Linked DNA regions of Homo sapiens. The protein of the gene in region 1 binds, or shares a complex with, the protein of each later gene. Links are inferred from orthologs where the notes say so. Each region holds a gene or a part of one and is shown on either strand. Other genes may lie near its edges.

Evidence for each region.
Region 2: the proteins of OOEP (region 1) and NLRP5 are in contact, whole or in part, in a cryo-EM structure (PDB 8H93), measured with the Mus musculus proteins. The link is inferred for Homo sapiens from one-to-one orthologs. Residues at the interface, in NP_080756.1 of Mus musculus: Ser26, Leu27, Arg28, Leu29, Arg30, Thr31, Arg32, Ile38, Val41, Asn43, Tyr48, Met49, Leu75, Leu86, Glu88, Pro95, Thr99, Lys102; in NP_035990.1 of Mus musculus: Glu173, Leu176, Leu195, His196, Gly202, Leu206, Asn322, Leu325, Glu326, Tyr337, Ile338, Leu339, Val340, Glu341, Gly342, Leu343, Ser344, Ala345, Ser346, His373, Asn625, Gln626, Asp652, Ser655, Glu661, Leu662, Cys663, Pro664.

Annotation. Positions count from the first base shown.
Region 1 is NC_000006.12:73,364,167-73,378,839, reverse strand, and holds OOEP (oocyte-expressed protein homolog), read left to right. Parts: upstream 1-8,942; 5' UTR 8,943-9,047; coding exon 9,048-9,237; intron 9,238-9,454; coding exon 9,455-9,634; intron 9,635-9,976; coding exon 9,977-10,056; 3' UTR 10,057-10,285; downstream 10,286-14,673. UniProt on the Homo sapiens protein: Component of the subcortical maternal complex (SCMC), a multiprotein complex that plays a key role in early embryonic development.
Region 2 is NC_000019.10:55,978,981-55,994,987, forward strand, and holds the start of NLRP5 (NACHT, LRR and PYD domains-containing protein 5), read left to right. Parts: upstream 1-7,794; 5' UTR 7,795-7,841; intron 7,842-8,833; coding exon of another isoform or gene 8,834-8,933; exon of another isoform or gene 8,934-9,649; intron 9,650-16,007. Other genes in the region: NLRP8 (NACHT, LRR and PYD domains-containing protein 8), read left to right, coding at 414-584, 2,079-2,178. UniProt on the Homo sapiens protein: Component of the subcortical maternal complex (SCMC), a multiprotein complex that plays a key role in early embryonic development.

The DNA.
Region 1 (14,673 bases):
CTGGCTGGAGTGCAGTGGTGAAATCTCGGCCCACTTTAAACTCCACCTCCTGGGCTCAAGCAATTCTCCTACCTCAGCCTCCCAAGTAGCTGGGACCACAGGCATATGTCACCACGCTCGGCTAATTTTTGGATTTTTTAGTAGAGATGGGGTTTCATCATGTTGGCCAGGCTGGTCTCAAACTCCTGACCTCAAGGGATCCACTTGCCTTGGCCACCCAAAGTGCTGGGATTACAGGCCTGAGCCACTGCGCCCTGCTGGTACTCAACATATATATATAGATTTTCTTTCTGAGTTGGAGTTTCATTCTGTCACCTTGGCTGGAGTACAGTGGTGTGATCAGGCATGAGCCACCATGCCTGGCCTCAATGATTTTTAAGAGCAGGGGGACCCAAACATTTGAGAACTGCTGGCTCAGATGATCTTAGAGTTTGTAGCTCGGCCCAGTGGCTCAGGCCTATAATCCCAGCATTTTGGGAGGCTGAGGTGGGTGGATTGCTCGAGCTCAGGAGTTCAAGACCAGCCTGGCCAACATGAAGAAACCCCATCTTTACAACAAAATACAAAAACATTAGCTGGGCATGGTGCACACACCTGTCATCCCAGCTACTCTAGAGGCTGAGGTGGGAGGATCGCTTGAGCCCTGGAAGTGGAGGTTGTGGTGAGCCAAGATCATGCCACTGCACTCCAATCTGGGTGTCAGAGTGAGATACTATCTCAAAAAAAAGAAAAAAAAATAGAAGAAGAAGAAGAATTTGTAACAATAATATATGCAGGCTGGAGCATTTGGCATAAATTAAATAGGGTTACTTGGTGAAAACTCAGGTTTTTAACTTGAAAGCTGCCTGGTACAGCTATAGGTTGTAGGTGCGGTGGTGGCTCACACCCATAATCCTAGCACTTCAGGAAGGCCAAGGTAGAAGGCTCGCTTGCGGCCAAGAGTTCAAGACCAACCTTGGCAACATAGCAAGAACTTGTTTCTACAAAACATAATTTTAAAAAATATTAGCTAGGTGTGGTTGCACTCACCTGTAGTTCCAGCTCCTCAGGAGACTGAGGCAGGAGAATTGCTTGAGTCCAGACGGTCGAGGCTACAGTGAGCTGTGATTATGCCACTGCACTCCCGTCTAGGTGACAGAGTAAGACTCTGTCAATGAATGAATGAATCAATACAAGTAAATATAAATAAATACATAAAAATATTGCTGGCTTTTTACAGTATGTTGTTCAAAACCAGACCCAACAAACTCACTTACATGAGTTAATTTTGAGGCCACAAATACCTATCACATCTTGGGTGATATCAGAGAAACATTTGAGTAGAGAGGAAGTTGCATAGCACAGTTCACTCATAAAGTAGAAATGGTATATTCACGAGAACTTGAGAAAGTTCGAGGTGTGGTGACTTGCATGCATGAGCAGGTTGTTTATCTACTCCTGAGGCAGATAATAAAGCCGTCCCAGAAACTACTCACCCCTATTGCTTTGTGAGCAGAGCCCTATAGTTCTCTCTCAGCTGAAGCAAAACATGCTGCCTACATTTAAAAGGGGTCTTGAGGTTTTGGCTCCAGTTTGTGTCTCATCTTTACAGTTTTCACAGGATTATATTTTCAGCAAATAGAACAGCTCTAGAAACTTCCTTGGATGTGCCTTTAAAGTTTACACCAAGGCTGGCTTAAGATTGTAGTCAGTTTCTCTCTCCCATGGTAATAAGACCACATATGTCTAGCTAATTGTGTTAACTGGCAATGGCACAATGAAAGAAAATGGAAGTCTAATGGTAAAACACAATTATATAAGGATGTAGCCAAAGAACCATAGGGCATCTCACCAACAATAAATTTTTTTACAATTTTAGGGAAGAGAGGAAGAGAGAAATAAAATCATGGGCTGGGTGCAGTGGCTCACGCCTGTAATCTCAGCACTTTGGGAGGCCAAAGCGGGTGGATCACCTGAGGTCAGGAGTTCGAGACCAGCCTGGCCAAAATGGTGAAACCTCTTCTCTACTAAAAATACAAAAATTAGCCAGGCATGGTGGCAGGCACCAGTAATCCCAGCTACTTGGGAGGCTGAGGCAGGAGAATCGCTTGAACCTGGGAGGTGGAGGTTGCGGTGAGCCGAGATCGCACCAGTGCACTCCAGCCTGGGTGACAGAGTGAGACTCCATCTCAAACAAACAAACAAACAAAAACCACAAAAATCAGCCAGGCTTGGTGGTGGGCGCCTGTAATCCCAGCTACTCTGGAGGCTGAGGCAGGAGAATTGCTTGAACTCGGGAGGTGGAGGTTGCAGTAAGCTGAGATCTTGCCATTGCACTCCAGCCTGAGCAACAGACTCCGTCTCAAATAAATAAATAAATAAATAAAATCATGTTTCGTTGGGCTGTATGTATAAGGATCAGCATCAGATCTTGACAGTGAAGTGAACCCAGGGTCCTTAATTGAGATAGATGTGGAATGTTGTATTCAAAAAAAAAAAAAAAAAAAAAAAAAAAACAACCCCTTGTCCAAAACAGCTGCGACTGAGTTGTCAATTAAGGCTGTTTCTCTGTATCAAAGTGACTTAGAAAAACAAACGAAAAAAGAAAAACAAAATTAAAAAATAAATAAAGTGACTTAGATCCTCCAGGCAAGAATGGATGTTTCATTGTTACTGATAAATAAATTTAAATAGTACATTTTCTGATAGTCTGTAATTTTAGAGAATAATGTTTCTCACTGAGTAAGAACATAATAGTCATTCAAAAATGGGAGATCGGCTGGGTGCGGTGGCTCACACCTGTAATCACAACACTTTTGGAGGCTGAGGTGGGTGGATTACTTGAGGTCAAGAGTTCGAGACCGGCCTGGCCAACATGGTAAAACCCCGTCTTTACAAAAATTCACCTGGCCGTGGTGGCGGGTGCCTGTAATCCCAGCTACTCGGGAGGCTGAGGCAGGAGAATCACTTGAACCTGGGAGGCAGAGGTTGCAGTGAACAGAGATCGTGCCACTGCACTCCAGCCTATGCAACAGAGTGAGACTCCATCTCAAAAAAAAAAAAAAAAAAGGGAGATCATTATGACAATTTACAGCTGCAGCATGTCTTTGGGAGAAATTTAGTTTTGCAGCTGGTTTTATCTGTGTCTGTCTCAACCTGCTATAAATGATGGCAGATTTCTCTTTTCTCTCAGGATATAGTTATATAAAACTTAATTTTATATAAATATATACTGTATATAATATATAAGCTATATATATTATATATAAGCATATATATGTTTTATATATAAGGAAAAGAGAGTCCAGGCTGGAGTGCAATGGTGCCATCATAGCTCATTGCAGCCTCTGACTCCTTGACTAAAGGGATCCTCCTGCCTGCAGCTCCCAGAGTAGTTGGGACTACAAGGCATGAGACACCACACCGGGTTAATTTTTAATTTTTTTGTAGAAACAGGGCCTCCTTATGCTGCCCAGGCTGGTCTCCAACTCCTGGCCTCAGGCAGTCCTCCTATCTCCCACAGTGCTGGGATTACAGGCCTGAGCCATCCCTCTAGGCTCACTAATCTAATTTTTACTTTCTGTTCTCTCAGCTGGGAAAAGGTTAGTTCTCTTAGTAAAGAGGTGCCTTGGAGGGGATTCTAGAAATGGTTAGAAAGCTCAGCTTCACCTTAAATACAACCAAAGCTACTCAAGTATGTCAGCAAAGAAAGTCTGTTTTTTAAAAGAAGAGTTGGCTGGGTGTGGTGGCTCATGCCTGTAATCCCAGCACTTTGGGAGGCTGAAGTGGGTGGATCACCTGAGGTCAGGAGTTTGAGACCAGCCTGGCCAACATGGCGAAACCCCGTCTCTACTAAAAGTACAAAAATTAGCCGGGAATGGATGGCAGGAGCCTGTAATCCCAGCTGCTCAGGAGGCTGTGGCAGGAGAATAGCTTGAACCTGGGAGGTGGAGGTTGCAGTGGGCCAAGATCCCGCCACTGCACTCCAGCCTGGGCGACAAGAGCGAGACTCTGTCTCAAAAATAAATAAATAAATAAGTAAATAAATAGTTAAGTATGAGATCAGTCTCCCTTCCCCCATCAGTAAATCAAAACAACGATTAGGAGACATATTTTAATAGTTCCAGTAAAAACTCCAGGCTAGGCTGGGCACGGCTCATGTCGTAATCCCAGCACTTTGGGAGACCAAGGCAGGAGGGTTGCTGGAGCCTAGGAGTTCCAGACCAGCTTGGACAATATGGTGAAACCACATCTCAAAAAACAAAAACAAAAAACTCCAGACTATGATCACACAGGCAAATATACAGAGAAGGTAAGGTGAAAGGAGAAGTATGTGTTTGACTACAATTTCAGGGCTGGGGGCAGGCCTGGAATCTAAGCCTTCTTTACCATCTCTGCAACCATCATCATTTGTTGCTGGTAGGATTGGGATTGGCTTCAAGTTTTGGTCCTGTAGATCTGATTGGCTCTGTACCACAGAAGTGGAAAGCTGGGCAAACACATGGGAGTGGGTCCTGGAAAGGGCCTAGTCATACTGGGGCCTCTGGGGTTCCACATCACTGGATGAAGGCAGCCAGGCATTACGACTTTCATAGACTCCAGGTACTTTTAATGGAGCCCCTTTCCTCCATTAAAAAAATACATAAAATTGTACGTTATCTTTATTTTATTTTTTTAGAGATGGGGTCTCTGTCACCCAGGCTAGAGTGCAGTGGTGCAATCATAGCTCACTGCAGCCTCGACCTTGTGCACTCAGGCTATCCTTCCTCAGCTTCCCGAGTAGCTGGGACTACAGGCGCATGTCACCACAACCAGCTAATTATTTTATTTTTTGTAGAGACAGGTCCTCTCTATGTTGCCCAGGGTGGTCTCAAACTCCTAAGCTCAAGTGATCCTCCCGCCTCAGCCTCCCAGTGATGGGATTACAGGCATGTATATATATTTTAAAAATATATTTAAAAAATATATTTTTGGCAAAGCGCAGTGGCTCAAGGCTATAATCTCAGCACTTTGGGAGGCCGAGGTGGGTAGATCACCTGAGGTCAGGAGTTCGAGACCAGCCTGGACAACATGGTGAAACTCCACCTCTAGTAAAAATACAAAATTAGCTGGGTGTGGTGGTGCATGCCTGTAATCCCAGCTACTTGGGAGGCCTAGGCAGGAGAATCACTTGAACCCAGGAGGCGGAGGTTGCAGTGAGCCAAGATTCGCCATTGCACTCCAGCCTGAGCAAAAGAGCAAAACTCCGTCTCTAAATAAATAAATAAATAAAAAATAATTGCATACTTAAAATCTTCTGGCCCTGGCCAGTTGCAGTGGCTCATGCCTGTAGTCCAACATTTTGGGAGGCCAAGGCAGGAGGACTGCTTGAGCCCAGGAGTTCGAGACCAGCCTGGGCAACATAGGGAGACCTCTGTCTCTACAGTGGGTGTGATGGCATGCACCTGCCTCAGCTACCCAGTGAGCTGAGATCGTGCCACTGCACTCTAGCCTGGGTGACAGAGTGAGACCCTGTCTCAAAAAAGAAAACAAAAGAAGAGAAGGAGCCCTCTTCCTTTCTCCGCCATCGTGGTGTGTTCTTGACTCCGCTGCTCGCCATGTCTTCTCACAAGACTTTCAGGATTAAGCGATTCCTGGCCAAGAAACAAAAGCAAAATCGTCCCATTCCCCAGTGGATTCGGATGAAAACTGGAAATAAAATCAGGTACAACTCCAAAAGGAGACATTGGAGAAGAACCAAGCTGGGTCTATAAGGAATTGCACATGAGATGGCACACATATTTATGCTGTCTGAAGGTCACGATCATGTTACCATATCAAGCTGAAAATGTCACCACTATCTGGAGATTTCGACGTGTTTTCCTCTCTGAATCTGTTATGAACACGTTGGTTGGCTGGATTCAGTAATAAATATGTGAGGCCTTTCGTTTTTAAAAAAAAAAAAAAAAAAAAGGAAAGAAAAAGAGAAGGTGAGAAAGAATCTTCCGGCCCTTAAGAGCTCTGTGAAACGTCAGTTTGCTCTGGCCGCTTTCCCATTTTGATCTCGGGCTGGCGTCAGGCCCACTGCAGGATCCCTGGCACCCCAAGAAGCTAACCCAGATGGCGGGAAAAGTGTTCTATTAACCCAGCCAAGTTGGCTCAGTGCATCTCTCCACCTCAGTCTCTGGTGTTGGCTTCCATGCACTCGGGAAAACTGCCCACTTGTCCCCAGGCTTCCAAGGAGGCCCACGTGACTGACTGAGCTCCCAAAAGGTTTTCTTGCACAATAGCCCTCCTGTTTTGGCAGGCTCAGGTGCAAAGGCCTATCGGTCTCCCCAAAGCTGAGAGATGCGAAACCAACACTTGCGAATCAGATTCTGGCCTCTCACTGAGCAGGGAGGTTCTTTCCTCAGGGGAGAGCAGTAATCCCACAGGATCATTTCTTCCTTGAGGAAGAAATAACTGAACTAGCCACTGTTGGGCTACACCTGAGACTGAGTTGTATCTGAGACTAACTGCTTCACGGTGTCCAGCATGCTGGGGATTTATGTGGGGTTTATGGCAGAAGATCCCCACAAGATAATGGGGTGCCATCTTTTCCACACCAGGAAGTGGAATTTGAGAGAAGTTAACTTATTCCTGTGTGGCTCAGATCACCACAGTCCCCCTAAAGAAGCTGTTAAAATTCTATACATGCTGGGTAAAATATTCTTTGTCTACAGTAATGTAAGTGCGTCTCATGATTAGATTAAGGCTTTAATTTTTTTAGGTTTATTTTTAGGGTCTCGCTCTGTCACCCAAGCAGGAGTGCAGTGGTGTGATCATGGCTCACTGCACCCTCAAACCCCTTGGCTTAAGCGATCTGCTAGCCTCCACCTCCTAAAGGGCTGGGATTACAGGCACGAGCCACAATATCTGGCCTTGATTAGGTTAAGGGGTTTTTGTTTGTTTTTTGAGATGGAGTCTCACTCTGTAGCCCAGGCTGGAGTGTAGTGGTGCCATTTTGGCTCACTGCAACCTCTGCCTCTGGGGTTCAAGCAATTCTCCTGCCTCATCCTTTCGAGTAGCTGGGATTGCAGGTAACCACCACACACTGGCCAAATTTTTTTATTTTTATTTTTTTTTATTTTTGAGACAGAGTTTTGCTCTTGTTGTCCAGGCTGGAGTGCAATGGTGTGATCTTGGCTCACGACAACCTCCGCCTCCTGGGTTCAAGTGATTCTCCTGCCTCAGCCTCCTGAGTAGCTGGGATTATAGGCATGCACCACCATGTCCGGCTAATCTTTTGTATTTTTAGTACAGACTAGGTTTCTCCATGTTGGTCAGGCTGGTCTCGAACTCCCGACCTCAGGTGATCTGCCCGCCTCAGCCTCCCAAAGTGCTGGGATTACAGGCATGAGTGACCGTGTCTGGCCCACACCCATCTAATTTTTGTATTTTTAGTAGAGACCGGTTTTCTCCATGTTGGTCAGGCTGGTCTCAAACTCCTGACCTCAAGTGATCCTCCTGCCTTGGCCTCCCGAAGTGCTGGGATTATAGGCATGAGCCACCTTGCCTGGCCAGGTTAAGGTTTTAAATGTTTATTGCATCAGAGCCATAGCTAAATCTTGTTTTCCTGTAAGTATGCCCTGCACACCTGATAGTCAAGTTTTCTCAGAAACCATTGAGGGTGAGAGGGGGTGGGATCAGGGGCAGAAAACTGGAACCTCCACACAGTCCTAGATGATCATGTGGAGTCTGGAACATGCTTTTCACTATTTTGAGTTTTTTCTTCTATGCTGGCTGTGGTGGCTCACGCCTGTAATCCCAGCACTTTGGGAGGCCAAAGTGAGAGGACTGCTTGAGCCTAGGAGTTCAAAACCAGCCTGGCAACATAGTGGGACCCTGTCTCTACAAACAGACAAACAACAACAACAACAAAAAGAGCTGGAAAATAGCTGGGTGTGGTGGCAGGTGCCTGTGGTCTCAGCTACTCAGGAGGCTGAGATGGGAGGGTCGCTTAGGCCTGGGAGGTCGAGGCTTCAGTGAACCGAGATCGTGCCACTGCATTCCAGCCTAGGCAAGAGAGTGAGACCTATCTCAGAAAAATAGAAGTTTTAAAACAAACACATAGTTAATTGTAAGAACGAAATAGTATATTCAGCAGATACTATTCTGAAACAACCAAACAATATTTCTACAAATATAGTAGAAAATGTGTAAGGACATGCATGGGGATGATATATACACACTAGCTTCAGGATGATTTCCTCTGGAGAAGGAAAGGAAAGATGCTTGAGTAATATCTGTTTTAAAAACAGAGGAGTGAGGCAAATGTGGGGAAATGTCAACATCTGTTAAACTCGGGGAGGGTACATGGCCGTGTTATATTACTTTTTTGGATGTGTGAAACCTTTCATAATCCAAATTTTTAATTAAAATTACAAACATTGGGAAAAAATGTCCATCGATAATGGTTGTCTTAGGATACTGGAAATAAAGGAAAATTGTCTAACTTGCTACATGTTCTATAAGACCACCTCTGACGTGTTGTTTAAAACATGACACACTTGCTTGAATGATTTAAAAATGGTAACCATCCGGAGAGTCAGAAGATAACAACAGGGAGCAGAACAGAGAAAACTGACACATTGAACAAGCCTGCCCTGGGTCCGATATACCTATCTTTGGGAGGCAACGATGAAACCTTAACCTAGCCAGCAAAGGTGATTCCCAGTCTATTAATAGAGTCGTCAATTCAAACTCACACTGTTAATCAGCTATAAGGTGGGCAGAGGACTTTCAGGCTAAGCATACCTTACGAGCAGAGATGACGAAGGAGAGCATTGGAGACCCAACAGGAGGCCAAATGAATACTAGTTCAAGGTCAAAGAGGCAATCCCGGCGATTGAAGCAGCGCAGGAAGTGTCCAATGGTGCCGCTATGCCGGGGCGTCGCTTGCACCCGCTCACCCCGACGCGGTGCGAGGCGCCGCCGGAAGGGGCGGAGCGGGTCGAATATGGTAAAAGAGAGCCCGAGCTTCGCGCCTGGGTCTGGAAGAGGTCTTGCGAAAGCCGCCTCGAGCGCGCTCCGCGGCTGCTGGTCCCAGTATGGTCGATGATGCTGGTGCCGCTGAGTCCCAGCGGGGCAAACAGACTCCGGCCCACTCCCTGGAGCAGCTGCGTAGGTTACCACTTCCGCCGCCACAGATTCGCATCCGGCCCTGGTGGTTTCCGGTGCAGGAACTGAGAGACCCTTTGGTGTTCTACCTAGAGGCATGGCTGGCAGACGAGCTCTTTGGTGAGCGACCCCAGGTGTGCTAGTGGGCTGTCCACCTCCAGTCTGAGAGAGGCTTGGCAGAGCAGCTCTCTACAGTCTCTTTCCCAGATTCGCAAGCCAGGAGTGTTGCAGTGATGCCCACCTTCCAGTTCTTCCCTTCCCTGGCCAACATTCCCTTCAAATCCAGCTTCTAACCTGCCACCGTGCAGCCCCTCAGAGTTTTTCCTTACTTGTTTAGGCCCAGACCGAGCCATAATTCCAGAAATGGAGTGGACGAGCCAGGCCCTGCTGACAGTGGACATAGTGGACTCAGGGAACCTAGTCGAAATCACCGTTTTCGGGCGGCCCCGTGTACAGAATCGGGTGAAGAGCATGCTCCTGTGCCTGGCATGGTTTCACCGAGAACATCGTGCCCGAGGTGAGGGTCTTTGAGAACCTGCATGTGGAGGAAGCCACGAGTGACCATACTGGCCTTGCTCGGTTTCCTTCCATCCTCCCTTAACCTTCTCAAAATTTCTTGGTTTCCAGACCCCAGGGAGCTAGCTGTACGAAGTTTGTTGGGAGGGGATCCTGGGGTAGGACCTTGGGAAAGTCAGCAGAGATCTGATAGATTCAGACCCATCACTGCCCAAGTCAGCCTCACCTGGGTTACAGCACTATCGCAGATCTTTCTCTCCTCCCCAACTCCCAGTCACGGAGTAGTTCGAAACAGCAAACACTTGTCCCTGTCCATGGTTAGTATCAACTGCTTCTCTTCCAGCTGAGAAGATGAAACACCTTGAGAAGAACTTGAAGGCCCATGCATCAGACCCCCACTCTCCCCAGGATCCTGTTGCTTAAGACAACATAGTTACTGTTGGGAACATCTTAACTTTCTAACTTTTGCTGCTAAAGTTGAAGAAAAGCAAGTATAGCATTCTTAAATCCCCGTATTCCTTTTTCCTGTGTCTTGATGGATTGTGGTTTATTTTGTTGCAAGAGTGAGTTTGAACTATTCTAATAAAGAAATGGCTATTTTGCCAAAAGCATTAAGATCTTCACACACTTATAATAAAGCAAATTTATAAAAGATTGACTCCCACTCATGTTTTGATATGAAGGGTGGGCAGGTGATAGTTTTGTAGGTTTTTGTTTTTGTTTTTTTTTCCTGAATTCCCATCATTTTGAAACTCCTAATCCTTTTATGATTTTCTGGTCAGAGAGAGGCCCTCACCCACAGGGAGCGGATATGCAGGGGCAGATAACCTCACAAATGGTGATCTGTTTTGTTTTTACATAATTGGTCCTCAAACTTTAAAGCTTGTAAGAAATCACCTTGGGAGCTTGTTAAAACACAATTTCCTTGGCTCCTTCTCCAGAGAATTCTGATTCAGTACTTTTGGGGTGGGGCTTAAAATTTCATTTCTGATGAGCTCACACATACTACTAAAGCAGCTTATCTGAGGCTCTCACTTTGAAGCTGGTAATTGATCCCCCGAAGAGCACCAGCTGTGCGTTTTCCTGGAGTGGGGCATCCATTGGGCAGAGGATGACGTTGCAAGAAGCAAGCCTGGGCGGTCAGCGTTCATTAATGGTAGTTTTCGATTTACCACGGAAGAGCAGGGTTCCCAGGCACCTTGGCTCGTGGATGGCGCCCTGCCTTGGAGCCGGCTGTCTACCTTTTTCTACAAGGCGAGGCTGCACGGGTGTCCGGCATGGGCCAGGTTGTTTTTCCACTACGTGTTGTACTGAAATTACCAATCTCTGCAAAACAGCTCCTATCCTTGCCGCCCCACTTTCTGGAAGTAGAATTTTTGGGGCGAAAGGTGCCAAAAGCCCTGTGGGTTCAAGCACAGTTTGGATTGGTTTGACTCATGGAATTTATTCACTCCTTGGCAATAAAGTATTCTAGCCTTTTGCAAGCGTTTTAAACTCACAAGTCTCTTTAATTGTGCTTTTTTGATTAGAGGTGATGTTGAATATTTTCTTTGTTTCAGTTTTACATTTTTCTTTATTCATTCCTTTTTTTTTTTTTTTTTTTTTTTGAGATGGAGTCGCTCTGTCCCCCAGGCTGGGGTGCAGTGGCGCAATCTCGGCTCACTGTACGCTCCGCCTCCCAGGTTCACCCCATTCTCCTGCCTCAGCCTCCCGAGTAGCTGGGACTGCAGGCGCCCGCCACCATGCCCGGCTAATTTTTTTTTTGTATTTTAGTAGAGACGGGGTTTCATTGTGTTAGCCAGGATGGTCTCCATCTCCTGACCTCGTGATCCGTCCACCTCAGCCTCCCAAAGTGCTGGGATTACAGGCGTGAGCCACCGTGCCCAGCTTTCCTGGTGAGATTTTTATTGTTTATTTTTATTTATTTTTGAGATGGAGTCTCGCTCTGTTACCCAGGCTGGAGTGCAGTGGTGTGATCTCGGCTCACTACAACCTCCGCCTCCCGTATTCAAGCAATTCTTCTGCCTCAGCCTCCCAAGTATCTGGGATTACTGGCATGTGCCAACACACCTGGCTAATTTTCGTATTTTTAGTAGAGACGGGATTTCACTATGTTGCAAGGGTGGTCTCAAACTCCTGACCTCAGGTGATTCTCCTGCCTTGGCCTCCCAAAGTGGTGGGATTAGAGGCGTGAGCCACTGCACCTGGCCCTGGTGGGATTTTTATTTTTATTTATTTATTTTATTTTATTTTTTGAGACAGAGTCTCGCTTTGTCACCCAGGCTGGAGTGCAGTTGCACGATCTTGGCTTACTGCAACCTCCGTCTCCCAGGTTCAAACGATTCTCTTGCCTCAGCCTCCTGAGTAGCTGGGATTACAGGTGCGTGCCACCACGCCCAGCTAATTTTTTGTATTTTTAGTAGAGATGGGGTTTCACCATGTTAGCCAGGATGGTCTCGGTTTCCTGACCTCGTGATCCACCTGCCTCAGCCTCCCAAAGTGCTGGTATTACAGGCGTGAGCCACCGTGCCTGACCCCTGGTGGAATTTTTATAAAACCATTGAACATTTTGGGTTTTTGTTGAGACAGTCTCACTCTGTCACCCAGGCTGGAGTGCAATGGTGCAATCTCGGCTCACCGAAACCTCTGCCTCCCGGGTTCAAGCGATTCTCTTGCCTCAGCCTCCCGAGTAGCTGGGATTACAGGCACCTGCCACCATGCCTGGCTAATTTTTGTATTTTTAGTAGAGAATGGCCATTCTGGTCTCGAACTCGTGCCCTCAACTGATCCACCTGCCTTGGCCTTCCAAAGTGGTGGGATTACAGGCATAAGCCACTGCACCTGGCCCATTAAATATTTTGTTATTGGGGAAAAAGGGGTAAGCTTAAAACTTATTCTAATTTTTCCAAAAATACTGTATGATCCTAAACTCCTTCCATCCTTTGTACACATTAACATATATTGAAGTCCTAATCCCCAGTACCTCAGAATATGACTATATTTGGGCAATATTTGAAATCTTTGACTCTCAAGACTCTTGGCATAGGGCAACCTCTCCTGTTCCTCCATGCTGGGCAGCTGGCTTGGCTTGATGGCATCTATAATTCCAGCATGATATAGAGTTTCCATTTACTGGGTGTTTAGAGAAAGAAGCAGCCATATGAATAGGTGAAACTTAAAGTGTCAGTTCCGGGAAAGATGTTCATAGATATTTTGGATATGAGTTGAAAAGGTTGTGAGGGCCGGACATGGTGGCTCAGGCCTGTATTCCCAGCACTTTGGGAGGCTGAGACAGGTGTTGACCAGCCTGGCCAACATAGTGAAACCCAGTCTCTACTACAAATAAAAAAAATCAGCCAGGTGTGGTGGTGGGCGCCTGTAATTCCAGCTGCTCGGGAGGCTGAGGCAGGAGAATTGCTTAAACCCAGGAGGTGGAGGTTGCAGTGGAATGCCGTTGCATTCCAGCCTGGGTGACAGAGTGAGACTCCATCTCAAAAAAAAAAAAAAAAAAAAAAGAGTAGACTTGCCCTCTTAAATATTAAAACAGTCTATAAAGCTACTTAATTAAAATGGGGGTAGATATCAGAAAAAGTAGAAAAGTTACACATGAACATAAAATAGATTGGTAACACTGAGTTTGGGCAAGGACAGTGAAAACAGCTTGTAAAGGAGAGAACCTGACATTCTGGTAAGGTGGGTATTACACAGAGAAAGACAACATACACATTAAGTTTTAGCTCTGCTCTGATGTAGCCTCATTTGAAACTGATTTTGTGTTGATTTTGAATTTAAAGTGTTCTAAAGTTCTTCTAAAATTAGTCAACTATTTTAATAAAATGATTAGCGGTTAAAAGTTGCTAATAAGTTATTGTAAATTCAGCTTTATGTGGTAATTCCCTTATTGTAAGATACATGATTATTTTAAACTGGAGTGATAATTAGCGGTGACAAAAAGAGTCTGATAGACATTCACCTTATATTTAAAGTTAGCTTTGAACTTTTAAAAATTACTAGTGATTGGCCGGGCGTGGTGGCTCATGCCTGTAATCCCAGCACTTTCGGAGACCCAGGCGGGTGGATCACCTGAAGTCAGATCAGCCTGGCCAACATAGTGAAGCCCCTTCTCTACTAAAAACACAAAAATTAGCTGGGCGTGGTGGCGCGGGCCTGTAGTCCCAGCTACTCGGGAGGCTGAGGCAGGAGAATCGTTTGAACCCAGGAGGCAGAGGTTGTGTTGAGGCGAGATCGAGCCGTTGCACTCCAGCCTGGGCCACAGAGAGAGATTCTGTCTCCAAAATAAAATGAAGATTACCAGTGATTCTTGGTTGGTTAAAAAAAAAAAAAAAAAAAAAAAAAATCCTAATTATAGAATTACTGCGTGCTATTGTTTAATCCTAGCACCCAGCTGTTGGCTTGCATCCTTCTAGATTAATTCGCAGGCTCAGGGACCTGCATCCCAGCGCCCTGACCAAAGCTGTGACCCTAGGGAAGCCAAAGTGTTCTCTGCTGGGGCTTCTCGCTGCCATAGTAACTGAGGAAAGAGTAGCCGATGCCTGTATCTTGCTGGTGTCCACGACCTTCGTGGAAGGTGGGTGACCCAAGCAAGACCTGAAGACTGCAACAGTGCAGCCCAAGAGTGCAGCTCGGGTCTCTTCGTTTCCCCCTTCCCCGATGTCATTTTCCCCAGCTGAGAAAGTGTTCTGTGACAGAGTAGCAATACACCCAGGGCCTTCCAAATCCAGCTGGCCCCCAAGCGACCCAGTTTTCTCATCCCAAGTCACCTTGAGTAGAACGACAGCGGGCTTGGAGAGATTTCCTAGTGGGCCAGAGAGGCTTCTCACCTGTTAAAGCCAGATGCGCGCGGTTAAGGAGTACAAGGGGCACACCGGACCACAGCCGGGGAAGATGGCCACCTCGGGCGGCTAGGAACCACAGGCCCCACCTGCCTCGAGGTAGAGGGCTGCGCAGGGCAGAACTGGGCTGTTGGAGGAATGCGCCTTTCCCTCCCCTCTACCTTCCAAAATACAGACGTTAGGGAAA
Region 2 (16,007 bases), on another chromosome or scaffold:
CATGCTATTTGAATACATGTATTTTGTTACCTGTCTCCTCCCTCAATACCCTGCCCAGTCAACTGTGAGTTACAGGAAGGCAAGGATGGTGTGTGTTGCTCACTCTTGTGTCAAAAATGTCCACTAGGTAGAATCAAATATCTTTTGAATGAATGAAGATAAGTAGGTACAAGCCATTTTCGAAAGATATACTTGGCTCATAAATTCTTAGAGTGAGGAATACTATAGCCTGCTCTGAAATCACCAAAAGGACACAAAGAAACTGATTGACTATAGGTGAATAGACCATAGTTGGAACAACATTACACATTCCTGTCAGTGTGATTTCTTGGCTGTAAGCCGTCACACCGGCTGAGCTCTCAGATGAGTTGTGATGACTTCTCTGCTGTCTGCTGTCTGTTTCTGTGTCACAGGCTGGAAAACTGCCTGTTCACCTCCATCTGCTGCCAGGCCATGGCTTCCATGCTCCGCAAAAACCAACATCTGAGACATCTGGACTTGAGCAAGAATGCGATTGGAGTCTATGGTATTCTGACCTTGTGCGAGGCCTTCTCAAGCCAAAAGAAGAGAGAAGAGGTCATTTTGTAAGTCTCCACCGGGTTTCCTGTGCAAAACCTACCACACAAGAGAAGCTCCTTGTAAAACGTGAGATGCTGGGCTGGGTGTAGTGGTGCATGCCTGTAATCCCAGCACTTTGGGAGACTGAGACAGGCAGATCGCTTGAGTCTGGAGTTCAGACCAGCCTGGGCAACATTGCAAAACCCTGTCTTCTACTAAAAAATAGAAAAATTAACTAGGCATGGTGGTGCATGCCTGTAGTCCCAGCTACTCAGGAGGCTGAGGTGAGAGGATCACTTGGGCCCAGGAGGTTGAGGCTACAGTGAGCCATGATCACACCACTGCACTCCAGCCTGGGCAACAGAGTGAGACCCTGTCTCTTAAAATAGAAAGTGAGATTGTGGACCTGGAATGCTATTGTTTCAGGTGTTGCTACCATTCTGCTTTTGTTTCCTGGGGATTTATATTTCCCTTAATGTAGCTGTTCAAACCCCCAACTCCCACTTTTACCTAAAGGAACCATTAACTGGGATTCTCCTATCTGATATCTTCTTTCTTGTCTTTGTCTTCTCTTTTCTTCATTTCTTCACCTTTTCTTCCTGAACAGCTGAGTTTGTTATCACTTACCAGCTATATAGCCATGAACAAGTTAATCTTTCTAAGCCTCAATTTGCTAATCTATAAAATTGGGATGGTGTCTTCTCCCATGGAGATTTTATAATGACTGAAAGAAAAGTCGCACATACGGCACTTAACACAGTGCCTAACACATGTTCTCAACCAGTGGTGGGTTCTGGGTGAAAGATACAATTTTTCCTGGTGTATGAGTTGTCTATTGCTATGCAGTGAATTACCTCAACGCTTAGTAACTTAAAGCCACATAAAGGCGTATTGTCTTACACAATTTCTGAGGGTCAGAAATACGACAGCGATGTAACTGGGAGGTTCTAGCTCATGGTATCTCCCGAGGTCTCAGTTGAGCCACTGGCTGGGGTTTGATGAGGGCTGTTGAATCTGCTTCCAGGCTCACTTGTGTGGCTGTGGGCGGCGGGGGGGCCTCAGTTGTTCTCCAGGGAGTTGCTCATGACATTGCAGCTGGCTTCCTCCAGAACGAGAGGCTGAGAGAGGCAGAGGCAGAGGGAGATGGTGGCAGAGAGAGATGACTGACAGCTCAAAACAGAGCCACAGTCTTTTATTACTTAATCTTGAAAGTGGCGTCCCATCACGTCTGCCTTGTTTTATTGGCCATGGTCCAGCCCTGGTCCAGTGAGAGAGGGAGCCATCCAAGGGTGTGATTTGTAGGAGGAGGGATCATGGGGGCTGTCTTGGTTGAACCCCAAGGCACTTTGAATTCATTCCTGAGCTCCTAAGAGTGCTCCTATTTGTCTTGACCTACTGCATGGGGCCATGGTGGTCTCCTAGGTGGTAAATTTCTGTTCTAGAGGTTCTGTCTCTTTGTTTTGGGGCTGCAAAAGAAAACCAAATGTAAGAAAACAAAACCTTGTTTTTATCCTTCCCAGGGAGAAGAAAGACAGCAATGAAGTGGATATGCTGGCAAGACTGGAGGGCCCTGTAGTGGAAGGAGACTTCCTGAAGATAATACAGGACTGGAATTCTTAGTGCTGTGATGAAGCAATAGAGATGAATCGATCTGGACCCTCTGGTGACTGATCTGGTGGCCCTCTGGGTATTTTTTTTTTTTCCTAATGAGAAATTGGGAAACAGTTGCCTATTTTGTGGGCCGTCCTGACTCTGGAATGGCTCCATTCGTTCTGGGAACTGGTGTAGGGCATGACCTCCAAATAGCTCCATCAATGTTATGGAGTGTCATGTGTTAACACATAGATTAGTCACTGCATTGGGGGCACCAAGGTAAGGTGAGTTCCAACCCACATCTACTCCTGGCTACCAGAATGTCTTTGAATATGTCATGTAAACATCTCTTGGAGATATGTCTTCATATCTTCAAGGGTATTAGAAAAATTTAATTAAAAATATGCATGAATGCAATTTGAAATTTTTTAGAGTGTGATTTATTTACCAATAGACTGGTCCATCAACTGTTAAGGAAGAAACCTGTTCTTAACGTGTCTGGGGAAAGTGTGCACAAGGAACTTCTAAGGAAGATAATAAATGTAGCAAGTACTGGAAAAAGGAAATCACCTCATGTTTAAGGAGCTCTAAAAATGAAGTGTAACTCTTAACTTTTTAAGGTCCTAACTAACTACTACATTCTTAAATTAGTTATGGCAGCATTTAAAACTCAAAGATCTAGAAAGCAATCACAATGTTTTTTTTCCCCTTCTGAAACAGCCATCTTTTTACAATGTAATGATCAGGTATCATCCAGGTTGGTTTCTCTTGTTTTTTGTTTTTTTTTTTGAGATGGAGTCTCACTCTGTCACCACACTGGAGTGCAGTGGTGTAATCTCGGCTCACTGCAACCTCCACCTCCTAGCTTCAAGTGATTCTCCTGCCTCAGCCTCCTGAGTAACTGGGACTACAGGTGTGCACCACCACTCCCAGCTAATTTTTTTGTATTTTTAGCAGAGACAGGGTTTCACCACGTTGGCCAGGATGGTCTTGATCTCTTGACCTCGTGATTTGCCTGCCTTGGCCTCCCAAAGTGCTGGGATTACAAGTGTGAGCCACTATGCCCGGCCCAGGTTGATTTCTTAATTCTGAAGAAATTTTATTTCAAAAGCCAGAGCAGTTGGGGTCTTCAACCTCCACCCTAGCAATCCCACTGCTAGGTATATACCCCAAAGAAATCAGTAAATCAGAGAGATATCTGCACTTCCATGTTTATTGCAGCACTATTCACAATAGCCAAGATTTGGAAGCACCTAAGTGTCCATCAACAGATGAATGGATAAAGAAAATGTGGTACTTACGCACAATGGAGTACTATTCAGCCATGAAAAAGAAACTTAAGTGTAGAAACAATGGTATCATAGAAACAGCACACTGGTGCTCAGGTATTGTTTTCTAAGTACCGTTCCTCATTAAAGGAACCAAGAATCTTCAGAGAAAGAGCTGACTCCACAGTTGGTGCTGGGAATGTACAGAATGGGCTTGGAACATCTTGTGCCAGAAGTAAGACAATGCTCAGAGAACAATGGGGGCCAGGCCAGTGGCTTGCACCTGTAATCTCAGCACTGTGGGAGGTTAAGGTGGAGAGTTGCTTGAGCCCAAGAGTTAGTGACCAGCCTGGGCAACATAGGGAGTCCCCATCTACATTAAAAAATGTTTTACAAATCACCTGGGCATGATGGCGCATGCCTGTGGTCCCAGCTATTTGGGGGGCTGAAGTGGGAAGATCACTTGAGCCCAGAATCTCAAGGCTGCAGTGAGCCATGATGCATCACTGCACTCCAGCCTGGGCAACAGAGTGAGACCCTGTCTCTGAAAAATAATAATAATAATGGGGACATAGCAATAGGAACAAGGAGCCTGATTGAATGAGTTCCCACCGGCCAAATCTGGAATAATTTAATGATCAAACCAAATAATGGTAGAAATGTGGATGACAGTCGTGAGACCTTGGTTCTTGTCTTCATTTAAAAGAATTTAAACAACAGATACACAGCAAAGGAGATGCAGCATAGGGCAATTGCAAAAGAAAAAGAATATTTTGAAAGTAGGCCAGGTGCGGTGGCTCACTCCTGTAATCCCAGCATTTTGGGAAGCTGAGGCAGGTGGATCATCTGAGGTCAGGAGTTCGAGACCAGCATGGCCAACGTGGTAAAACCCCATCTCTACTAAAAATACAAAAATTAGCCGGGCGTGGTGGTGCATGCCTGTAGTCACAGGTACTTGGGAGGCTGAGGCAGGAGAATCACTTGAACCCAGGAGGTGGAGGTTGCAGTGAGCCAAGATTTTGCCACTGCACTACAGCCTGGGTGACAGAATGAGACTCCATCTCAAAAAAAAAAAAAAAAAAAAAGCAAATAAATGAAAGACGAAATGTGGTGGTAGAGAAACCATCAGAAGGTGCTGAAACCAGTAGATGGAGACTCGATGTACTCACATGAGTCTTTAAGGTTCTCCCCAGAAACTACATGTGAATTACAAAGTAAGAGTAGTGGGAAAACAGGGTAGATTGTGCCTTAGCCAAGTACTCAAAGTTAACATCACCAATAAGAAGACAAATGGATATCATGTGCCTGTGGATGGAACGTGCTGAGATAAACACAGCAGGGCCTCAGTGACATGACAGAACAAGAACACAAAGTTGGCAGGAACTATTTCAGATTCAGGAAGACCAACCTAGTAGATGCAAAAAAAAAAAAAAAAAAAAAAAAAGATAAAATTCAACATCAATTTGCAATTTTTAAAAAACACTTGGCAAACTTGGAACCGATGGTGACTTATTTAATTTGAGGAAGGGCTTCTAAAAAATTACTGCTAACATGCTTATTGTTAATTTAATCTAATATTTCACTATTTGTGAAAATTCTTTCCCTAAGATAAAAATGAGAGCAAAAAACCCAACCACTATTACAACTTTTATTTAACTTTGCACTGGAGGTCCTAGTCAGTGTAACAGGGCAACAAGAGGAATAATAAACACAACATTATAAAGATGGAAATAAAACTGTCATTTTTCACAAACAATGTGATTACATACATAGAACAAGAACTGATAATCCTGGTAAACCCTGGGGATTAAAAAATAATAATTAAAAAGTGAATTAGTAAGATCCCACACACAACAACTCGATATATGAAAATAAAATGTATTACTATGTACTATTAAGCAGTTTTTAAAAGCATAAAATTTCTTTTATACTGGTGTCAATAATCTCAAATAGGAATAAACAATAACAGTTGTGGCCGGGCGCAGTGGCTCACGCCTGTAATCACAGCACTTTGGGAGGCCGAAGCGGGGGGATCACCTGAGGTCAGGAATTTGAGACCGGCCTGGCCAACATGGAGAAACCCCGTCTCTACTAAAAATACAAAATTAGCCAGGCGTGGTGGTGCATGCCTGTGGTCCCAGCTACTTTTGAGGCTGAGGCAGGAGAATCCCTTAAACCTAGGAGGTGGAGGTTGTGTTGAGCCGAGATCGCGCCATTGCACTCCAGCCTGGGCAACAAAAGCAAAACACTGTCTCCAAAAAAAAAAAAAAAAAAACAACAGTTGTGCCATGGCCAGGCCCAGTGGCTCACGCCTGTAATCCCACCCCTTTGGGAGGCCAAGTGGGGAGGATCACTTCAGCCCAGGAGTTCGAGGCTGCAGTAAGCCGTGCTTGCACCACTGCACTCCAGCCTGGGCAACAGAGTGAGACCCTATCTCAAAAGAAAAAATTAAAGAATACCTAATAAATGGAGAAATATACAAACTTCATGAATGGGAACACTGTCTTTCAAAGATGACAATTTTCCTTGGCTGTATGCATAAAGTTATTGCAATTACCATAAAATTCCCAAAGTACTCTAGTGGAAATTTACAAGCAAATTCTAAAGTATATGAAGAAATGTGGCCAAGCGCGGTGGCTCACGCCTGTCATCCCAACACTTTGGGAGGCCCAGGTGGGCGGATCACAAGGTCAGGAGTTCGAGACCAGCCTGACCAATATGGTGAAACCCCGTCTCTACTAAAGATACAAAAAATTAGCCAGGCGTGGTGGCGGGCGCCTGTAATCCCAGCTACTAGGGAGGTTGAGGCAGGAGAATCGCTTGAACTGGGGAGGCGGAGGTTGCAGTGAGCTGAGATCATGCCATTGCACTCCAGCCCAGGTGACAGTGTGAGACTCTGTCTCAAAAAAATAAAAATGAAAAAGAAAAAAAAGAAATGCAAAGAGTTCAGGATAACTAGCACAGTATGGTATTTTCCATACATGTAATTAGAGATTGGAGAAATATACTAGGGAAACAGAATAGAGTCCAGAACAGAAGGGCATAAACATGATCACGTGACTTCTGACAAGCTGACATTACAAAAGACTAGGGAAAGGGTAGTATTGTAACAAATGGTGCTAAATTGATTGTTCCTACATAGAAGAAAAAATCTGAATTCCTACCTCATACCATATACAAAATTAATTCCAAGTATAGTATAAATCTAAATATGAAAGGAAAGACACTACACTTTCTAAAAACTAATCAGAAGACCTTCATGACCTAAGGAGAGACCATAAATTTTAAAATGCATTCACCATAAATTCTTCAAATGGAATTTTCAAACACATTTGGCCAGGCACACTGGCTCATGCCTGTAATCCCAGCACTTTGGGAGGCCGAGGCGGGTGGATCACCTGAGGTCAGGAGTTCGAGATCAGTTTGGCCAACATAGTGAAACCCCATCTCTATTAAAAATCTGAAAATTAGCCGGGCATGGTGGTACACACCTGTAGTCCCAGCTTCTCAGGAGGCTGAGGCAGGAGAATTCTTTGAACCCAGGAGGTGGAGTTTGCACTGAGTACTCCAGCCTGGGTCACAGAGCAAGACTCCACATCAAAAAAAACTAAAAATAAATACATGGGACTTTATCAAAAGTATAAACTTCTGTTTCAAGATTACTAAGAGAGTACATTTCAAGTGTTCTCACCACAAAAAAATAAGTATTCAAGGCAATGGATGTGTTTGTTAGCTTGATTTAATCATTTGACATTGTATACATAGAAGATCACACCGGACCCCAGGAAAATATACAATTATAATTTGTCAATACACAAAAAATTAAAAAATGCCAAGTGCAACTTCCAGATTATGTAAAATAAGGGCACCCAACACACACTCACACTCACACACACACTCTATCATACACAGTCTCTCACACACACACACTCTCTGTCTCACACACATTGTCTCACACCCACTCACACAGTCTCACACACATTCTCTCACACACATACACACTGTCTCTGTCTCACACATTCTCTCTCTCACACACACATGCACTCTCTCTCTCACACACACACTCTCTCACATACACACACACACACACACACACACACACACACACACTAATTGCTTCAGGACAGCCAGCTGAAGGCTGTGAGCATCCGGGCGCCCTCAGCACAGGTGTGTGGTGGTAAAGGCAGCCTCTTGCCAGCAGCAGCACCTGTAAGTGGTGCACACAGGTGCAGAAAAGTGCCTGTTCCCTGGGGCTGGTGGTTCAGAGCCGGTTGCAGCCAATGAGCAGCAGCAACATCACTGGCTCAGCGCTCCCCAGGAACTATCGCCACGTGGGCGTGGAGCTGGGCGTGGCCTTCTTTTTTCCGTGATTGCCAGCTGGCCCAGAGCTGGACCTGCTCTTGGTGGTGAGGTGTGAAGCTGGTGAGTATTCCTCCTGTCTTGCTCTCTGCCCTTCCCGCTTTTGTTCTCCACTGCTGATTAGAACCCGCGTATTGAGCTTACTAGGTGCCCCCACCCTCTCCCTTCTGGCTGCTCAAAGCCCAGGACCAAAGGATTCCTTGAAAGAACAAAGTCCAGTTACCCCATTTTGCTGAAAAGATCTTCCTCTAAAACCTCATATTTACTTGGGGTATTTAGGTAAGTCTCTCGTCCTTTTCAGACATTCGGTCTAAAATACTGTACAGAGGGCTGGGTGCAGTGGCTCACGCCTATAATCCCAGCACTTTGGGAGGCCGAGGCAGGTGGATCATCTGAGGTCAGGAGTTCAAGACCAGCCTGGCCAACATGGTGAAATCCTCATCTCTAATAAAAGTACAAAAATGAGCTGGGCGTGGTGGCATGTGCCTATAATCCCACCTTCTAGGGAGGCTGAGACGGGAGAATCGCTTTAACCCAGGAGGCAGAGGTTGCAGTGAGCCAAGGTCACGCCACTGCACTCCAGCGTGGGTGACAGAGTGAGACTTCGTCTCAAGTAAAAATTAAGTACAGAGTAGGGGGTACTGCAACTTGAATGTCAGGATTAGCTAATGTCTGGTCTGCATTTGGTAGGAGTCCAGAGGGTGTTTTGGTGCTAATTGTGCAAATACTATGGTTAACCGTAACTTAGTTATTGAAATGCCATACAATTCTGACGGTGTTGTTTGTCCTGTTTACCAAGGGAGGAAGCTGAGCCCCAGATAAGTTAAATGGCTTGCCTGGGGTAGAAAGCAGCAAATCATTCAAAGCTGGGTCTGAGACTTCAAGCCCTATAATCTTAACTGCTGCTTTCTAATCATTCAGGACACCTGGGTAGAAAGGTGAGGTGGGAGGGGTACGGTCTGTAGAAAAAGCATAGAGACAAAATGCAAGCTTAGGGAAGTCACTCATCCTCAGAAAATAACCTCAACCAGCAGCCTTCCTTTACCTCCCTCCAGCTGTATTCCTGCCTGGACTCGAATAACTAGCTTCTCCCCAACTCCTCACCCACCCGACTTCACGGGAAAAAGTGACTGCCTATCCCAGATTAATCCTTAGGCCGTCCAGTCATCTTTCTCTGGGGCTTGATTGATCAGTTCCCACTCTGACAACTGGCAAATACCAGGCGTTATCATCCTGTATGCATTAACGTACTTTCCCCTGAAACAGAGCAACCCAGTCAACACCACAGAACCTCAGCTTTGAACCCTGGAGTGAGGACGGTGATGCCCTGTGTGTATTAATATGCTATGTAAGGCTGGGCGTGGTGGCTCACGCCTGTAACCCAGCACTATGGGAGGTCGAGGTGGGCAGATTACCTGAGGTCAGGAGTTCCAGACCAGCCTGGCCAACATGGTGAAACCCCGCCTCTACTAAAAAAAAAAATACAAAAAATTAGGCGTGGTGGTGGGCTCCTGTAATCCCAGCTGCTCGGGAGGCTGAGGCAGGAGAATCACTTGAATCTAGGAGGCAGAGTTTGCAGTGAGCTGAGATCACGCCATTGCACTCCAGCCTGGGCGACAGAGCAAGACTCTGTCTCAAGAAGAAAAAAAAAATACATATACACATAAATATATATATGTGTGTGTGTATATATATATATATATATATATATGCTATATAAAGTTTAAATGAAATGCTTTGAGTCACCTAAGACAGGATATAGACAAAGTCTTCATCGTCTTCTTGCTTCTTCTACCTTTATTTATTCTCAGCTCTGAATGTATGAACCTGCTCAATCACCTCATCTTAAAAATAAAATCACTGTCCCTAGACCATACTCGTTTCCTTACCCACCCCTGAGGCTTTTGTTGGTTTTTACAGCCCTGGTTCACGTCTTGGTCCTCCAGCCCCTTTAAAGGATTGTGTAGAGCGGTAAGGGAAATGTTTAATTCAAATTACGTGTATATAGAAGTGTTTAGATATGACAGTCCGAAATTCGTTCTTTCTCAAATAACCTTCCTTCTTAATTTCATTGCCTAAGTTGAGAGTCTTTGTCTTCTGTGTTTTGCTTTCAATTTCCATGTATCCAGGTGGTTTATGTTAACTCAGAAGGGGGAGAAAAACCTAGAAAATCTTAATTGTTCTGTGGTCAGGATGTAAGCTTTTAAACATGTGCTCAGAAATAAGTATTTTTCCATTTACCAATAGTCAATATTGTCCCTAAATATTTATAGGAATGTGTAGAAAAGCTTATTTTCTTGCTATGGTTCTATTTTGAGCAATACAGCACATAAACTTCAATGTTCTATCATCAGTGTTCACGTGTACCTAGTTTTTTGGTCTTCCATGGATGGGTAATTGTAAGAATACCTCAATTGTTTTGATGAAATTCATTTATGTCTACTTATCTTCTACTAAAATGATTTTTTAATGGGAGGTACTTTTTAGTATTTGGTGATTTTTGGTGTGTATGTGTTAGACAAAGTCTCCCTCTTTTGCCCAGGCTGTAGTGCAATGGCTGGATCTCTACTCACTGCACCCTCCGCCTCCCAGGTTCAAGCAATTCTGCCTCAGCCTCCCGAGTAGCTGGGATTACAGGTGCCCGCCACCACGCCCGGCTAATTTTCATATTTTTAGTAGAGACGGGGTTTCCCCATGTTGGCCGGGCTGGTCTCGAACTCCTGACCTCAGATGATCCACCCACCTCAGCCTCCCAAAGTTCTGGGATGACAGGCGTGAGCCACTGCGCCCGGCCTTTTTCAGTATTAATTTGAAAGAGCAGCAATATGAGAAGGTGTGGCGGGAAGTGTGTCCTTCCCTGCCCCCGTAGTGTCTCTTCCCTATTTTCTGCTCATCACCCAAAGACATTCTGCGCACGTGTATGGCATTAAGAGCCTTACAGATGGGGCAACTTTCTGTGCTGATTGTTGTGCATTTTTAAGGATGCAGGGCACGTTGGTGCTCAAATTAACCCACCTGTTTTTAATCGACTCCTAAATGGTCTTCAGTCTTGCTGTTTTACACACGGCTGGGTCTAATTGCATTTAAAACGGATAAAGATTGTTAAAGTACCGTCCAAAAAGATGGCACCCATTTACACTTCACTAATGTAGGAGCACCTTTTCCTTCACCCATCACAAAGCAGCGTCCAGTCACACATTGTGGACATTGTCAGCCTCACATGTCAAACGTAGTACATCATTTTGGCTATTTACCTTATCAGTAATAACTTTTTTTTAAAGTACATTTAAAAGTCATGCCGTTTCTTTTTTTTCTTTTTTCTTTTTTTTTTTTTTTTTTTTTTTTTTTTGAGACAGTGTCTTACTCTATGCCCAGGCTGGAGTGCAATGGTGAGATCTCAGCTCACTGCAACCTCTGCCTCCCGGGTTCAAGCGATTCTCCTGCCTCAGCCTCCCGAGTAGCTGGGACTACAGGCACACGCCACGATGCCCGGCTAATTTGTGTATTTTTAGTAGAGATGCGGTTTCACCATGTTGACCAGGCTAGTCTCGAACTCCTGACCTCAGGTGATCCACCTGCCTCAGGATCCCAAAGTGCTGGGATTACAAAAGTCATATGCAGTTTTTTAACTCTTCAAAATCCTTCTAATAGGCTGGGCACAGTGGCTCATGCCTATAATCCCAGCACTTGGGGAGGCCGAGGCAGGTGGATCATTTGAGGTCAGGGGTTTGAGACCAGCCTGACTAACATGGCGAAATACCCTGTCTACTAAAAATACAAAAATTAGGCCGGGCACGGTGGCTCATGCCTGTAATCCCAGCACTTTGGGAGGCCCAGGCGGGTGGATCATGAGGTCAGGAGATCGAGACCATCCTGGCTAACACGGTGAAACCCCGTCTCTACTAAAAATACAAAAATTAGCCGGGCATGGTGGTGGGCGCCTGTAGTCCCAGCTACTCGGGAGGCTGAGGCAGGAGAATGGCAGGAACCCGGGAGGCGGAGCTGGCAGTGAGCCGAGATGGTGCCACTGCATTCCAGCCTGGGCGACGGAGCAAGACTCTGTCTCAAAAAGAAAAAAAGCTGGGCATGGTTGAGGGTGTCTGTAATCCCAGCTACTGGGGAGGTTGAGGCAGGAGAATCACTTGAACCCAGGAGACGGAGATTGCAGTGAACTGAGATCATATCACTGTACTCTAGCCTGGGCAACAAAAGCAAAACTCCATCTCAAAGAAAAAAAAAATTCCGCTGAGCTGTTGATCATTATCATGGATTGGAAGAGCTGTTTACGTAATGCATTCTTTGTCATGTCTCAAATTTATTTGCAGCAGTTTTTTCAGCGGGACTTTAAAGATTTGTTTGTTTTTCTGGAGTGAGGAGGGTACTGTATTGAATTAATCTGTCATCTTGTCTCTTTTATACCATTCGATTGAGACCTTCTATTCCATTTGCTCATTATTTGGGGGCTAAATGTAAAGTAGGAATTCATGAACATAAATATTTCAAAATTTAGCCCCCGGAAATGGTGACCTTCTATCGTAGATGTTAAAGTGCAGCCTAGACATCAACAGAGTGAATATCATTCTTCTTAGAATTTTCTTGTCTAGTTTTGGCTTTTCATAGAAACATTGAGTTTCTTGTCCTGATAACAATATCAGCAGTACTTCTTGGATGATATTATACTGATGGAGGATGACTGATGTGTTGGGAATCTGCCTCTGCCTCACCACATTGAGCCTTTTATCTAGCAGCCGCATTTTAAAGCTCTCAAAACAGATAGCCACTTTTCTAAATTATGCATGTTTTACCTCTATAGTTGCTGTTCATTTGATCTCACGTTTAACTGGTTATTAGATTTTGTGTGGGATTTCATCGTTACATTTGTTACCAGCCCAATTTAATAACTACATATAATTTAAAATTGAGTAATTTATTAGGCATACATACCTACATACAGATGTTAATTTTCACCTTTTTCCACTTTTATACCTCCTCTTTATCTGATTGCTTTCCTATCAAATATAAATTAGGTAAATATAAATAATAGTGGAATATCAGATATAAAGAATAGGGAGAGAGTACAAAACTGAACGGAAGTGCTGACAGCTAACATTCTTTTTTTACTTTTTAGTTTTGGGGGTACATGTGAAGGTTTGTTACGTAGGTAAACTTGTGTCATGGGGGTTTGTTATACATACTATTTCCTCACCCAGGTTATTAAGCCCAGTACCCAGTCGTTATTTCTTTCTGCTTCTCACCCTCCTCCCACCCTCCACCCTCAGGTAGACCCCAGTATCTGTGGTTCCCCTCTTTGTGTCCATGTGTTCTTATTTAGCTCCCATTTATAAGTGAGAACATGTGGTAGTTGGTTTTCTGTTCCTGTCTTAGTTTGCTTAGGATGATGGCCCCCAGTTCCATCCATGTTCCCACAAAAGACATGATCTCATTCTTTTTTATGGCTGCATAGTATTCCATGGTGTACGTGTACCACATTTTCTTTATCCAGTCTGTCCTTGATGGGCATTTAGGTTGACTCCATGTCTTTTCTATTGTAAACAGTGCCACGGTGAACATTTGCATGCATGTATCTTTATGGGAGAATGCTTTATATTCCTCTTAGTGTATATACCCAGTGATGGGATGGCTGGGTCCAACGCTACTGCTTTTAGCTCTTTGAGGAATCTCCACCCTGCTTTCCACAATAGCTGAACTGATTTACACTCCCACCAACAGTGTATAAGCTTTCCATTTTTTCCTGCAACCTCAGCAGCGTCGGTTTTTTGACTTTTTAATAATGACACGTAACATTCTTATGGGATTCTCTGTAGGGCTTGTGTCAAATCCAGCCCATTGCCCAGTTTTGTAAATAAAGATTTATTGGAACACAGCTTTTCTCCTTTGTTGACAAATTGTCTACAGCTACTTTCCCAGTGCAGGAGCAGCTAAGCACGGGTGGCAGAGAGCAAATGGCCCCAAAGCCAAAAATGCCTGGCTCCTTCTGGGAGATTTGCTGACCCCTGATCTTTGTCAAAAATAGATACATTTGCTGCAGTTTTTCCTTTATTTTAGTTGACACATAACTGTACATATTTATGGAGACTTTTTTTTTTTGAAATGAATTTTCGCTCTTGTTGCCCAGGCTGGAGTGCAATGGTGCAATCTTGGCTCACTGCAACCTCTGCCTCCCAGGTTCAAGCGATTCTCCTGCCTCAGCCTCTTGAGTAGCTGGGATTACGGGCACCTGCCACCATGCCTGGCTAATTTTGTATTTTTAGTAGAGATGGGGTTTCTCCATGTTGGTCAGGCTGGTCTTGAACTCCCGACCTCAGGTGATCCACCCACCTCGGCCTCCCAAAGTGCTGGGATTACAGGTGTGAGCCACTGCGCCCGGCCCGAGTGATATTTTGATACCTGTATACAATGTATCATGATCAAATCAGGGGACTTAGCATATTCATCACCCCAAACATTTGTGTTGTGAACACTCTGTCCTCCCTTCTAGCTTTTTGAGAGTGGACAATAAGTTATAGTTCACCATATTCACCTGCAGTGCTGCAGAACACCTGCACCCATTTCTCCCTTCTACCTGTAATCTTAGCACCCATGAGCCATACTCTCCCCCTCCTCTCCCCCTCCTCTCCCCCTCCTCTCCCCCTCCTCTCCCCCTCCTCTCCCCCTCCTCTCCCCCTCCTCTCCCCCCTCTCTCCCCCCTCTCTCCCCCCTCCCTCCCCCTCTCCCCCCTCCCCTCCTCTCCCCCCTCCCCTCCCCCCTCCCCTCCCCCCCTCCCCTCCCCCTCCCCCTCCCCCTCCCCCTCCTCTCCCCTCCTCTCCTCCCCCCTCCTCCTCTCAACCTCCCCTCTCCCCTCTCCCTCCTCTCCCCTATCCTCTAATACCCACAATTACATCCCCTACTTCCATAGTCCCATTTGCTCAATTTAACTCCCACATATGAGTAAAATACATTCAGTATTTAGTTTCCCATGCCTGGTTTATTTTGCTTCACACAATGAACTACAGGCTGTAGCTCACATGAAGAGCTACAGGCTCATCTGTGTTGTCACAAATGGCAGGATTTTTTGAAGGCTGAAACATGTTCCCTTGTGTGTGTATACCACGTTTTCTTGATTCATTTGTTGATGGACAGTTAGGTAGATTACATATCTTAGCTATCGTGAATAGTGGGGTGGTAAACATGAGAGTGCAGACATACCTTTGATATACTTCGGGTAAATCACCAGATCGCTGGATCATAGGGTATTAATCTATTTTCAGTTCTTTGAGACACTGCTACACTGTTTTCCATAATGGCTGTGCTAATTTACATTTCCACTGACAGTGGAAAGGAGTTTCTTTCTCTGCATCCTTGCCAGCATTTATTTTTCGTCTTTTTTGATAGTAGCCATTCCAACTAGAGGGAAATGCAAATCAAAACCACAGTGAGATTGCGATGATGAGTAATGTTGAATCTTTTTTCGTATCTGTTGGTCATTTGGATGTCTTTTGAGAAATGTCTGTTCAGGTTTTTACCCACTTCTTAAATGGATTACTTGGAGTTTTGCTATACAGTTGTTTGAGTTCCTCATATATTCTGGGTATTAGTTCCTTGCCAGATCATTATTTTGCAAATATTTTCTCCCATTCTGCGGGGTTTTTTTGGGAGGGGGGACAGAGTCTTGTTCTGTCACCAGGCTGGAGTGCAGTGGCACCATCTCAGCTCACTGTAACCTCCAACTCCCTAGTTCAAGCGATTCTCCTGCCTCAGCCTCCCCAGTAGCTGGGATTTCAGGCACGTGCCACCACACCCAGCTAATTTTTGTATTTCTAGTAGAGATGGAGTTTCACCATGTTGGCCAGGATGGTCTCGATCTCCTGACCTCATGATCCACCTGCCTTGGCCTCCCAAAGTGCTGGAGTTACAGGCCTGAGCCACTGTGCCCAGCCAGGTTGTCTCTTTACTCTTGGACTATTTCCTTTGCTGTACAGAAGCTCTTTAGTTGGATGTACTCCTATTGGTCTATTTTTGCTTTTGTTGCCTGTCCTTTTGAAGTCTTAGCCGCAAAATATTTGCCTTGACTTGTATTCAGAAGAGCTTTCCCTATGTTTTCTTCTGGTAGTTTTATTATTTCAAGTCTTATGTTTAAGTACTTTATCTTGAGTTGATTTTTATATATGGTGAGAGACAGGGGTCTAGTTTAATTCTGCATATGGTTATCCCGTTTTCGCAGTACCACCT